Linked DNA regions of Homo sapiens: region 1 is linked to region 2. The links come from fine-mapping of genetic effects on gene expression. A gene starts in region 2. The other region holds a variant in brackets. All regions are shown on one strand. Distances are between the middles of the regions.

Region 1 (5,375 bases), 27 kb before region 2:
AACTTTAGGGCAGTTATTATAAAAATACAAACAATCTTGAAACAAAGGGAGAGACTTAGCAAGGAAAAAGCTGATAGAGTAACCAAAATAAAAAATTCATTGGATGAATTTTTCAACAGCAGAAGCAAAGTGGCAGTGCAAAAAGTCAGTGAAAATCAATAGAATTCATCCAATCTGAACACCAGTTTAAAAAAAAAAAAAAAACAGAGCCTCAGGGACCTGTGGGAAAATTACAAAAGCTCTAACGTGTGTGTCATCGGAATACTAGGAGAAGAGAAACAGTATGGTACAGAAAAAAATAGTTGAAGAGTATTTCCCAAGTTTAGCAAAAGACATAAATCTCAGATTCTAGAAGGTCAGTGAACTCCAACATGGACAAATTCAAAGAAATCTGACCCAAACATCTCACATTCAAACTGTTAAAACTAAAGATAAAGCAAAAAATCTTGCAGGCAGCCAGAGAAAAGTGACATGTTACTTACAGGGGAACCATGATTCAAATGACTACAGATTTCTCAACAGAAACTATGGAGGCCAGAAAGAAGTGGCATGACATTTGTCAAGTACTGAAAGAAAATAACTGTCATCCTAGAATTCTATATCCAGTGAAAATATCCTTCAGGAATGAAGATGAAATAAAGACATTCTCAGACGGAGGGAAACTGAATTTACTGCCATCAGACTTGCTCTAAAAGTATTGCTAAAGTCTTCAGACAGAAGAAAATGACACCAGAAGGAACATGAAACATCAAGAGTGAAAGAAGAGCAAACGTACATCACAGTGTGAAAGCTTTCCCAGCCTAATTCCACTTCAGCACCCTTTATCTTTCATAGGCATTGCTCCCTAATAAATGTTTTGCATTTCTTTTTAAAAATATATAAACTTAACTAGACAAGGCCATTTAGATTTAACTAAAATTGCAATCCTAGTCAACCACTGCTTAAATATACAGTCCAACCAATATGGGATTATTTTACATGATGTACAAGAACAGGTAGTAAGTAACCAGCAACAGCAACTGCAAACAACCCACTATTTACAATCACAATGCAGGAGTGCTTTTCTCCAAAATTAAGCACATTTTTCTCCCTATAAACAGCTATCTACCCTATCTCTAGATGTGAAAACAGTAGCCTAAAACTGAATACATACATTAAGGTTTGGAATCACTCAAGACAAAACAAACACAAAAAACCAAGAATATTGTCAGTCTTAATTTTTATTCATTTCCTTTTCACAGACATTTTTCTTAGCCAAGTATTTAACCTAAAGAATAGAAATAACGGGGTGGGCATGATGGCTCACTCCTGTAATCCCAGCACTTTGGGAGGCCGAGGTGGGAGGATCACCTGAAGTCAGGAGTTCAAGACCAACCTGGCCAACATGGTGAAACCTCGTCTCTACTAAAAATACAAAATTAGCTGGGCGTGGTGGTGGGTGCCTGTGATCCCATCTACTTGGGAGGCTGAGGAAGGAGAATCGCTTGAACCCAGGGAGGCAGAGGTTGCAGTGAGCCGAGATCACGCCATTGCACTCCAGCCTGAGAGACAGAGCAAGACTCCATCTCAAAAAAAAAAAGAAAGAAAAAGAAATAATACAAAGTACCTAGATGCTAAAGCAAGAGCATCCATGCATATAATGAAAAAACTGTTAACTAGCACTGAAGAACCACAACTGCTTGTATAAGATTATGTTTAATTTCTATTTATCAGATTCTGCCTGTTGAGAGCTAATTTTATAACAGTTCATCAGTATTTTTAAGTAAATTATTTTATCTTTATGCTGTCTATGACAACTACAACACCGGAGATGGTACTGCTTTCTGTCTCTTCTGGAGTAGAGCTCAGAGGCTGATCAACGCTGTTCTCTCCCAAATTCCACTTCCCAAAGGGCCATTCAAATGCATAAAGGAATGGGTTTCTAAAGATCTGAAGATGAGTTTATTACAAACTCAGGAACCTGCCCATAACTCTCTAAATGTCTAAATGCACAGTATAAGGAAAGAATAGAGAGATGAATTAAGAAAGTTCTCTCACTAACTTATCAACTGCATTAAATCCAAATACAACCTTCAGGTTTCTACTTATTCATTTAATGATTTTTCCCCAAACAACAAATTTATTAGTACCTATTCCTTAGGGAAAAATAAAACAACGCTGGAAGACACGCTGGTCAGCTCAAAGCACAGATCATGTTGAAACAATTTTATCCGGTAATATATATATTAGGTCAGAATTTTAATAAGCTACCATCTGACAGTACTTGCTCAGATCAAACAAAATAATCCCTTCAATTCTTTCCTTAATATACATATTAAAAGTAAATATTCATCAACTAGAAAATTACAAAAAGAGTCTAATATTTAAACAATTTTCTTTGGGTTTGCTACAAAGTTTTACAACAATGCCCTATGTGTATCTCTATTTTCTTAAGGCTTACTATGGTCACTACTACATAGGTAAGAAAAGTCAAACACCCTTACACTCAAAATCTAACTACATTCAAGCTCGTAACTTATTTGCTGCTCTTGGAAAAGAAGCATGAATAAGCAATGCATTCGATTGTTTTCTGGACACTTCTGAGCTCCCTTCTACCATTCTGATTTTCCAGTATAAACTACTGAGGTAGATAAGTAAACTTCCATAGCTTATTTTCTGGTCACATGCATTAAAAATTAAAGCTAAGATTATAAAATATATAGAGGTTGAGGAAATGCAATACACTGTCAAACTCCTTTTGTTATAACTGCAGGTTCTTACTCACTGTTGCATCAGAGCTAGCATTAGTTCCAGCTTCTGTTGCTAGGTAACCAAGCTCATTTGCATGGCTGTCCAGAAAATCCACAGCACTGCAAACCAGCCAAGAGGTGGCTAATGAAGAGAAATACCATCTATAATTAACATCTTCTGTCTTACTATACTTTTTCTTTTCATATTTTTTAAGCAAAGAAAAGCTTTGGCATCCTGTTCTTAATTGGGAAGAAAGGATCCAAACAAGAACCAAAAGCAAAAAAGCACACATCCAAGGGTGTGTCCATCCGGAGAGGATGTTCTGACTTGGAAGGAGAAATCCAGGACATACTAAATCTAGAAGCTGAGGCAGAAGAGGAGTAAATAACTTTGATACAACATCATTATGAAAGTGTGCGATCTAAACAGGCCGTATCATGCCGTATCATGAATACACAAATCAGTCGGAAATGGCTTTCACTGTTTACCGTCAAAAACCCATCCGTTTCTCAAATATATTTTATAAAATTATAA[T/G]GACTGAGCAGACAGTGGTCACAATATATATAAAACTCAGTATTTAATTCCTAAGTACCAATTCCCTAATAGTATTAACATGTATTTTGAAACTTCTCCATCTACTTTGAAGAAAAATTAGTGTATGAACCAACAAAATGTGCTATTGTTGCACCTACCAGGAATTAATTTCCCTTTTAAGCATCCAGTTAATCTGGTTTAGCAGTGAGAGGCAGACAGCAAAGGATACTTAACAGAGTAAGAAGACCTGGATTCTGGTTCTCCTCAGACTAACAGACGATAGCTACTTCGCATACAAACCACACAAGATTAGTATTCAGAAGAGTTTGAAACAAACACACACCTCTCAATAAGAAAGATAACTTAACAGAAAAAATGGACAGAACATGAAATGCACAAATGGGAAATTCCTAATGTTAAACATGAGAAGATGCCCCACCTTCAAGATGGTCAAAGAAAGGCAAAATTAGTACAACTAGATACTACTTCACACCCATCTGATTAATCTTTAAACATTTGAAGTCTGATAATACCAGGTATAGGTGAGAAATGAGGAAGCAGGAAGTGTTATAGGTGTTTGGTAGGGCTGTAAATTGGTATAAACCCTTCAGGGGAAAATTTTACAATACCTAGTAAAGCTGATAATGAGGCACCTGTCCTATGATGAAATAATCCATATTTAGGCATATACCAGATAGCAGTGCTTTACAAACCAAGGGCTGGAAAATAAACTTGGTAGTGTGTCATAATCAGCATTTTGTAGATGCATTTTTTGATGTAGACATTCCATATTCTCCTTACGGTATTTATACCTCTTCTTTGGTTATCAACATTAAGAGAAAGGTAGATTCACACTGTTATGTTATTGCTTTATTTAAAAAATGAGGGAGTAACGTGCCAAACCACTCTGCCAGGCCTTTCTGTCACATTTGCATCCCTATCCCTCCACTATTAGTTATCTGCCTTTCTGTGGCTATTTTATTAATTCTTCCAAGGATGATATGTATCTCTTACCATTCTATGGAAAGGAGAGAAATTCATATGTAGAGTGGGTGCCCTCAGGGCACTAGAGATGAATTCTCTCAAGGAACTCCAGTTGAGAAAGGTTCCTCCAAGTCTTAAAATCTGGGTTTTAATCCCAACTCTGTGACTTCAGGCAGGTTACTTACAAATCTAAGTTTTCACATCTGTATCTAGAGACAATAATCTCGACCTTACAAGTCTTTGGTGAAGATAAAGGTAAATAATGTACATGAAAACCTCTATGAGTATCCATCCATCAGTAAACCTTTAATACACAGTAGCTGAATCTGAGAGCCAGGCCAAACCTAACCAAAGCTGAATCTGAGGGCCAGGTTGCCACCAAACCTTCTGCTTCTGTATTTAAAAGAATCCTTATTAGAAAATATAAACAAAAACAAATACACGAAAGCATGCAGAGATATTAATATTCATTAATTTAAAAGCACTTAAATGCAATTGCAGACTGGATTAGCTAGCACAGTTTAATGGATATTAAGTCCTTTTGTCCCTCTCTACCCAACACACAGACCTTGTTTATCACATACCAACATAAAAGGCAGTTCTGGACTGCTCACCCAGAACTATCTTAAAATATTCTATATGTCATTTTTTTATACCATTACTCCATTCACTCCTTAATACAGTCAGCATTTTGCCTCACCAATGTAGATACTCCACCCAGTGGCAAAAGATCTGTTTAGATAATGAGGTTTAAAATTTTTTTTAACTATTATTGTTCCCCTTCAACATTACCAGCTCTGCAATGGCCTCAGTGATTTCCTAGTACAGCACAGTGTTTAAGAACAGATTCTTGAGTAAAAACTTTTTCCAAACCTTGATCCACTACTTCCAAATTATATACCTGGGTATTGAGTCTCAGTTTCCTCATATATAAAATGGGAATAATGTCCCTGCATCATGGGATAGATATAAATGTATGTAAAGCACTTAGCTCACTATCTGGAACATGGTCAACACTCAATATGTGATAGCTATTATCCTCCTACCTATGACTACTATTTAGTCTGTTTTCATCCTACTTAATGAGGTCAAGTAAATCCTCAACTGCTTTCATCATCTGATCAAAT
Region 2 (5,375 bases):
GGCTAAAGGATGCTTCTGCAACAGTCATTCACCAGTATGATGCAATGATGTGTTCTATATAGTCCTCAAAAATTCTGTTTTATTCATACCAGATTCTTGCAAGTATTACCACAAGTAATCTCAGAGAATGAGGTCCAAAGTCCTGACAGAGGGGTCCCAATTAGAGCCTCTCAGGTTATCAGAATCATTTGCCCAGACAGGTATATTCAGAAGCCCAAAAATCTTCCCTTTAAACTTGAAAATAGAGTTCCAAACTCAGTTTTCAGTAAAATACCTTTGAGAAGGGCATATTTAAGTTTCAATGTAATATCTACCACATCACCTGCCGAGAACTTTAATTTAGAAATCATCTGTTTTCAAAAATACCATAGCCCAGATGCCAAAGCATGATGTTTATCTTTACACAAAAAAACACCAAAAGAAGAAAGATTTTATTTGGGAAACTAGACCTGGCACTTGTGGTATTTATTTTCTTTCATGTTTTATAACTACCTTTAGTCACTTAATCCTATTATTGAAGAATTAAAGGAAATCAAAGAGATACCAATATAAGACTAGCAATTTGGTAGACAAGAGGGAAAAAATTAGGAGGCTGAAAAGGGAACACACAAACTCACCAACTCAGACTGTTTTTAACAGCATAGCATACTGTGTGGCCAATACCCCTCAAACCATAAATTCTGAGAAAAGTTCCCTAGTACCCAGTGGAGAGTCAAAAACAAATTCCTGCCTCAGCAATTTCTCACCATCATTTTATCCATCTGAGCCTGGCCCTAAATTTTCTAAAACAAAGCTCACAATCACATCCCCCTTCAACTTACATCCTCTCTCATGGAAGAAAGGTACTTTCTGTTCCATCATTTTCCTCTCAAACTCTGCCTATGACCTGGTCCCTAAAAACGAAATGTTCCTTCCACCTCTCCAAGTCTAGGCCCTTCATTCTCTTCCTCCACTGGTTCCTTGGCAGGGCCGGGAGCACAGAGGGAATACCTCCCACCGCTGTACTGGATTTCCCACACCTCGGTTCACATCGAATTTTTCTTCTTAACCCCCAGTAATCTGGCTTGTCTTAGCAATTCTATGAAACTGCAAGCACAGAGGGTTACTGACTCCCAATAGCCAAATAAAAGCTGACCAATCTCTCCTTTTCTAAGTCCTCGCCCTTTTCGATTTCTGCTGGCTCTATCTAGCCTTGGCTCTCCACTCGCCAAGGAAAATTCAAGACTGTGGTTAGACTCTAGTCTTTCTTCTGTGCAATCTAAGTGATCCCCTCCACTGTCCTCCTAGAAATGACATCAGAAAACAATCTTAGACCTATGCATCTCCAGCCACCAGTAAATAGGAAAGCCCTCGATTCTATCTTCATTAAGCCCTTCAACCTTACTTCACATGTCCAAAACCAAATTCAAAGTCTTCCCAGGATTCCTGTCCCATTCCACCTTCACTTCCCTGTATCTACCAACTATATCATCATCGCCACGTCAGTCAAATTTCCCTTCACAGGCAGCCACCAAGGTCTGCTCGTTTTTCCATACTAGTATTGCAACTCCTATGAGAATTAATACGGTTTTTCCATATTAAAATCTCATCCACTATGACTGCAGGTTTGCTTCCTTCCTGGAGTTCAAAAATGACTGCAGTGTCCAGAATGAGAAGCTGCTGTAAGACTCCTTTCCCATGGACCAGCACCCATCCTCAACTGAAACGCAGTCTGGGAAAGTGTGAAAAAATGAAGGAGAAGGAGAGAGACACTCAGCTAACGCCACTGCCCTCATCTCACCTGCCACAAATAATCTGCATCTTCCCCCAGCTACCAAACCGTCCTTCACATAAATTTCTGTTCAGCCCACAAGCTGAAAAGCCCCCTCAGCCTCTTATTAAAGACCCATTAAATAAGTCCTTCACTTCTTGATCAAAAGGAATCATCGCTGTGACTTCTAAAGTGTAAGAAAACCAAACCTTTAAAAGTACCTGTCCTCAGGGCTTGGGGCAGTAAAAAAAAAAACAATCTAGGTGAAACACCTTCTATAGGAAAATTTATTTTTTTTGAACGAACTTAACCAGGCAAAGCAAGTAACTAGCAACATGTGCACAATTTACTTGGGCAAATGTCGCCCGTTCCTCCTCGGTGTCATCAGAAGGTACACTGGGAGAACAGAAGGGTTGAATTGAGCTGGTTTCCAAGGAACCATGTCAGAGCCGCTGCGGAGTTAAGAGCTGCGTCCACACAGCAGCCAAATCATGAAGTTGCAGGAGCGGCTGTTGTTAACCCACAGCTAAGAATAACGCTCGACTTTCCAAAATAAAACGAAGAAACGAAGTCCCCTGGCCAAGGATTCGGGGCGGCACAGAGGGGAAACGGAGCTTCCTGCACTGCCCTCATCACTCAGAACCTGGGGTCCCAGGCGATTCAGTCACCGCCCACAGAACAGCGCCGCGGGCACCACGTGAGACTCCCGGGGCCGGCTGGGAGCGGGGGACGAGGGGCGCCCACTCGGGGGTCGGCAGTTTGCAGGTGCGATGGGCGGCCCCCTCACCCACGTTTATCCGGACTGGAGCCCGCCGCTCCCGGCTGGGTTTCCGGGTGGTTCGCGCTCCTTCTGAATTGGCAGCGAGGTCGCGGCAGGTTCGAGGTAAATCGGACGAAGAGGGGAAAAAGTCTCAGGGGTCTGGGGGCCTCCGCGCCTCAGGGGAGGCAAGGGCCGGGCCAGAGGCGCGAGGGTGGGTGAGGGATTCCCGCCGCGGGGCCGGGACCGGGGCTCGGGCAGTGGGCCATGCCCCGCGCGCCCACGCGGGCCGCCCTACCGTGGCTCTGCAGGATCTCGTGCTTGAGGCCGCCGGTGTAGTCGATGAGCTCCTCCAGGCCGCGCTCGCACAGCTGCCCGTAGCCTGAGAACTTGTGCAGCACCTTCTCCAGCTCGCGCTCCACCGTCACGCACTGATCCATGCCGGAGGCGGCGGCGCTCGGCTCCTCGGCGCCCAGGTGTCCGCAGCCGTTCGGCCCGGGCCCCACCGAGGCCGCGTCCTGCTCCTCGTTCCCCAAGCGGGCGGCGCGGGAGGCTGAGGCGGCCGAGGCGGCGGGCGCACTAGCCGCGGCGCCGGGGGAGCCCCGCGCAGCCGGAGCCCGCCTGCCCCATGGCGCCCTAGCCCCCCGGCGAGTCGCCGCTGCTCCCGTTCGCTCGCTGCACTCGGCTCCGCGTCCCCAGGCCCCGCTCGCGACGTTCGGGTGCCTGCGACGGCGCGGCCGATTGTTTTTGTTTTCACGGGAACCGACCGATGACCTGGTTCTCCCGGGCGGCACCAAGCGCCGCCGACTGGGGGGAGGGGGATGGCCACCCGGGCGAGGAAAGGAGGCGGCGCGGGCCGTACCAAGTACACCCTCGGGGTGGGGGGTGCGACCCGGCGAGAACGGGCGGAGGAACGCGACGGGCGCCCACACGCGCCGCCACTCTAATGGTGTGGGCCGTACCACACGGAAGGCGTGCGAGGGAGAGGGCGAGGGTGGAGCGAGGCCCCAATTGGCCTGAGGAGCTAAATAGGGAACTTTGGAGACAGCCCCAGCGCTCGGAGAGCGCAACAACTACGCGCTCCATAAACAAGGAGGCGGAAACCGGCCCTCACCACTCCGCCCAGAAGCGGGGAACCCCAACCAATGGGCGCGGGGAGTGGTAAGAAGCCAATCCCTGGCCGAGGCGTAAGCCTTCAGCCAATCCGGGCTGAGGGGCCAAACCAACGGGCTCGCTGTTGGAGGGGGTGACTTGGAGAGCGTACCGAGAAACGAGTAGTTTATGGAAAGCCTTGGGGGAAAACTAGACAAAAATACAAAAGGCTGTTTTCCATAGGACGTCGCCCTGATCCCAATTTATTTCGTCTCCTCATCGATCTTAAGGGAAAGGGGTACCGTCATTCCGAACTTTTGGGCGACGGATCCATCTCCCGGGAATGAAAAACCAAGCCAGGCCGCCCGGGGGCTGGTTCTGCGTCGGCGGGGGGTCCCTAATGGGAATTAAAGGCGGGGGTGATTGGGCCCGGGTGAGGGGAGCCGCTTGCTGCTCGCGAAAGGCCCGCGCCGGCTGTCAGCGCTGCCCCGGGCTTGCGACACCCAGGAGGTCATGTCCCCATCCCCCGCGGACCGTGGCCCTTTGGCCCCTTGGCCTGGAACCTCTCCTGACGGTGGCCTCGCCCCAGAGCCATGTGCCGGGCAGCTTAGCCGGGTGGAAAGAACACGCGCTGGAGAGCCGGGCAGCCTGGCCCTTGCTCCCTAGGAAGCCTTATGCTATCGGATCGGATCGGCTTTACCCCCTCGGGTAAATCCTTCCCATCGCTTGCTATGGCGTCTGCAGCCTTGGCCTAGACCTCCTTGATCAGCATCGGCTGCACTACCTTTGCATTTCTTCAGGAGCCCAGCTAGTTCGTGCCTCAGGGCCTCTGCACTTGCCCTTTCCTTGGCCCAGAAAACTCTTCCTCCTACCTTTTTCATCCTGAAGTTCTTCTCAGCTCACTTGTCCCCTTACAGGGTCCTCCCCTGGCTGACCACACTAATGTACTTCCTCCCCACCGTTAATACCATAACACATTTTATTATTTCCACACCACTTAAACTCTGAAATGATCTGATGTTTTATTTTTCTGTCTGCACCACTTACATAAAACCATGACGGCAGGCCCCCTGCTTGTCTAAATTTTTTGCCTAGAACAGCCCCTGGCGTGAGGTGGTAGGCAATTCTTTTTCTTAAATTAACGTGATAACGTTTTTGAGCCTTAACTTCCGTATAACTGAGAAATAATTGGAATTAATACTTAACTAAATTGTTAGATAAAGGAGAATATATGTAAATACCCATAATAGGCTCATGATAACCACATGATAAAGGTGGTAGTAGTCATTATTAGGGCAGCCCCAACTGGTATTATTTCAGATCTCCCTTCTCCCCACCCCATTTTTCTTCCCTCTTGGCAGATGTCTCTGATTCTTCACTGAGATTAAAAAAAAAAAAAAAATCTAGCTCCAGCAACTTCTATCACTCTTCTCCAAGTATTGCTGTGTACCACCCATTTTGTGAACATTCTCATGTACCCAAAGGACCAGGAGTCCCTTCTCCCTTTCCAAGACAGCCGTTGGGGCCTGCGGGCTGCCTCTCACCCCTGTCCAGATCTTCCCCCTCTTTCTCTGCAGTAGGTTCTTCCTTTCTACTTTCAGCCCAAATGGGTTTGACCTACCTGGGGGAGGAAACTTAATTTAACCCTCCTCAAGCACTCATTTCTTTCACTGCCAAACTGCCTAGACAAATCTATGTTTATTCCTCCCTTTTCTTCAAGGATCTCCTTGATAAGCTCAGTCACCCTTTTCTCAGTCTTTTTTTTTTCTTCTCCTT

The links.
Region 1: its variant is fine-mapped to the expression of RMND5A in whole blood (INTERVAL, PIP 0.93).

Annotation. Positions count from the first base shown.
Region 1 is chr2:86,745,601-86,750,975 of GRCh38, reverse strand. All of the region lies in intron 2 of RMND5A (required for meiotic nuclear division 5 homolog A), which reads right to left. Among named protein-coding and RNA genes, the nearest start is that of RNF103-CHMP3, 27 kb to the right of the region's middle. The variant T/G (reference allele first, on the strand shown) is at 3,265.
Region 2 is chr2:86,718,240-86,723,614 of GRCh38, reverse strand. It overlaps RMND5A (required for meiotic nuclear division 5 homolog A), which reads right to left and starts at 3,324. Exons shown (of 9, transcript NM_022780.4): 1 at 2,806-3,324. The coding sequence starts at 2,947. RNF103-CHMP3 (RNF103-CHMP3 readthrough) reads left to right here and starts at 2,493. Exons shown (of 8, transcript NM_001198954.1): 1 at 2,493-2,633. RefSeq lists silencers at 2,708-2,767, 3,246-3,404, 3,288-3,477 and an enhancer at 3,598-4,131.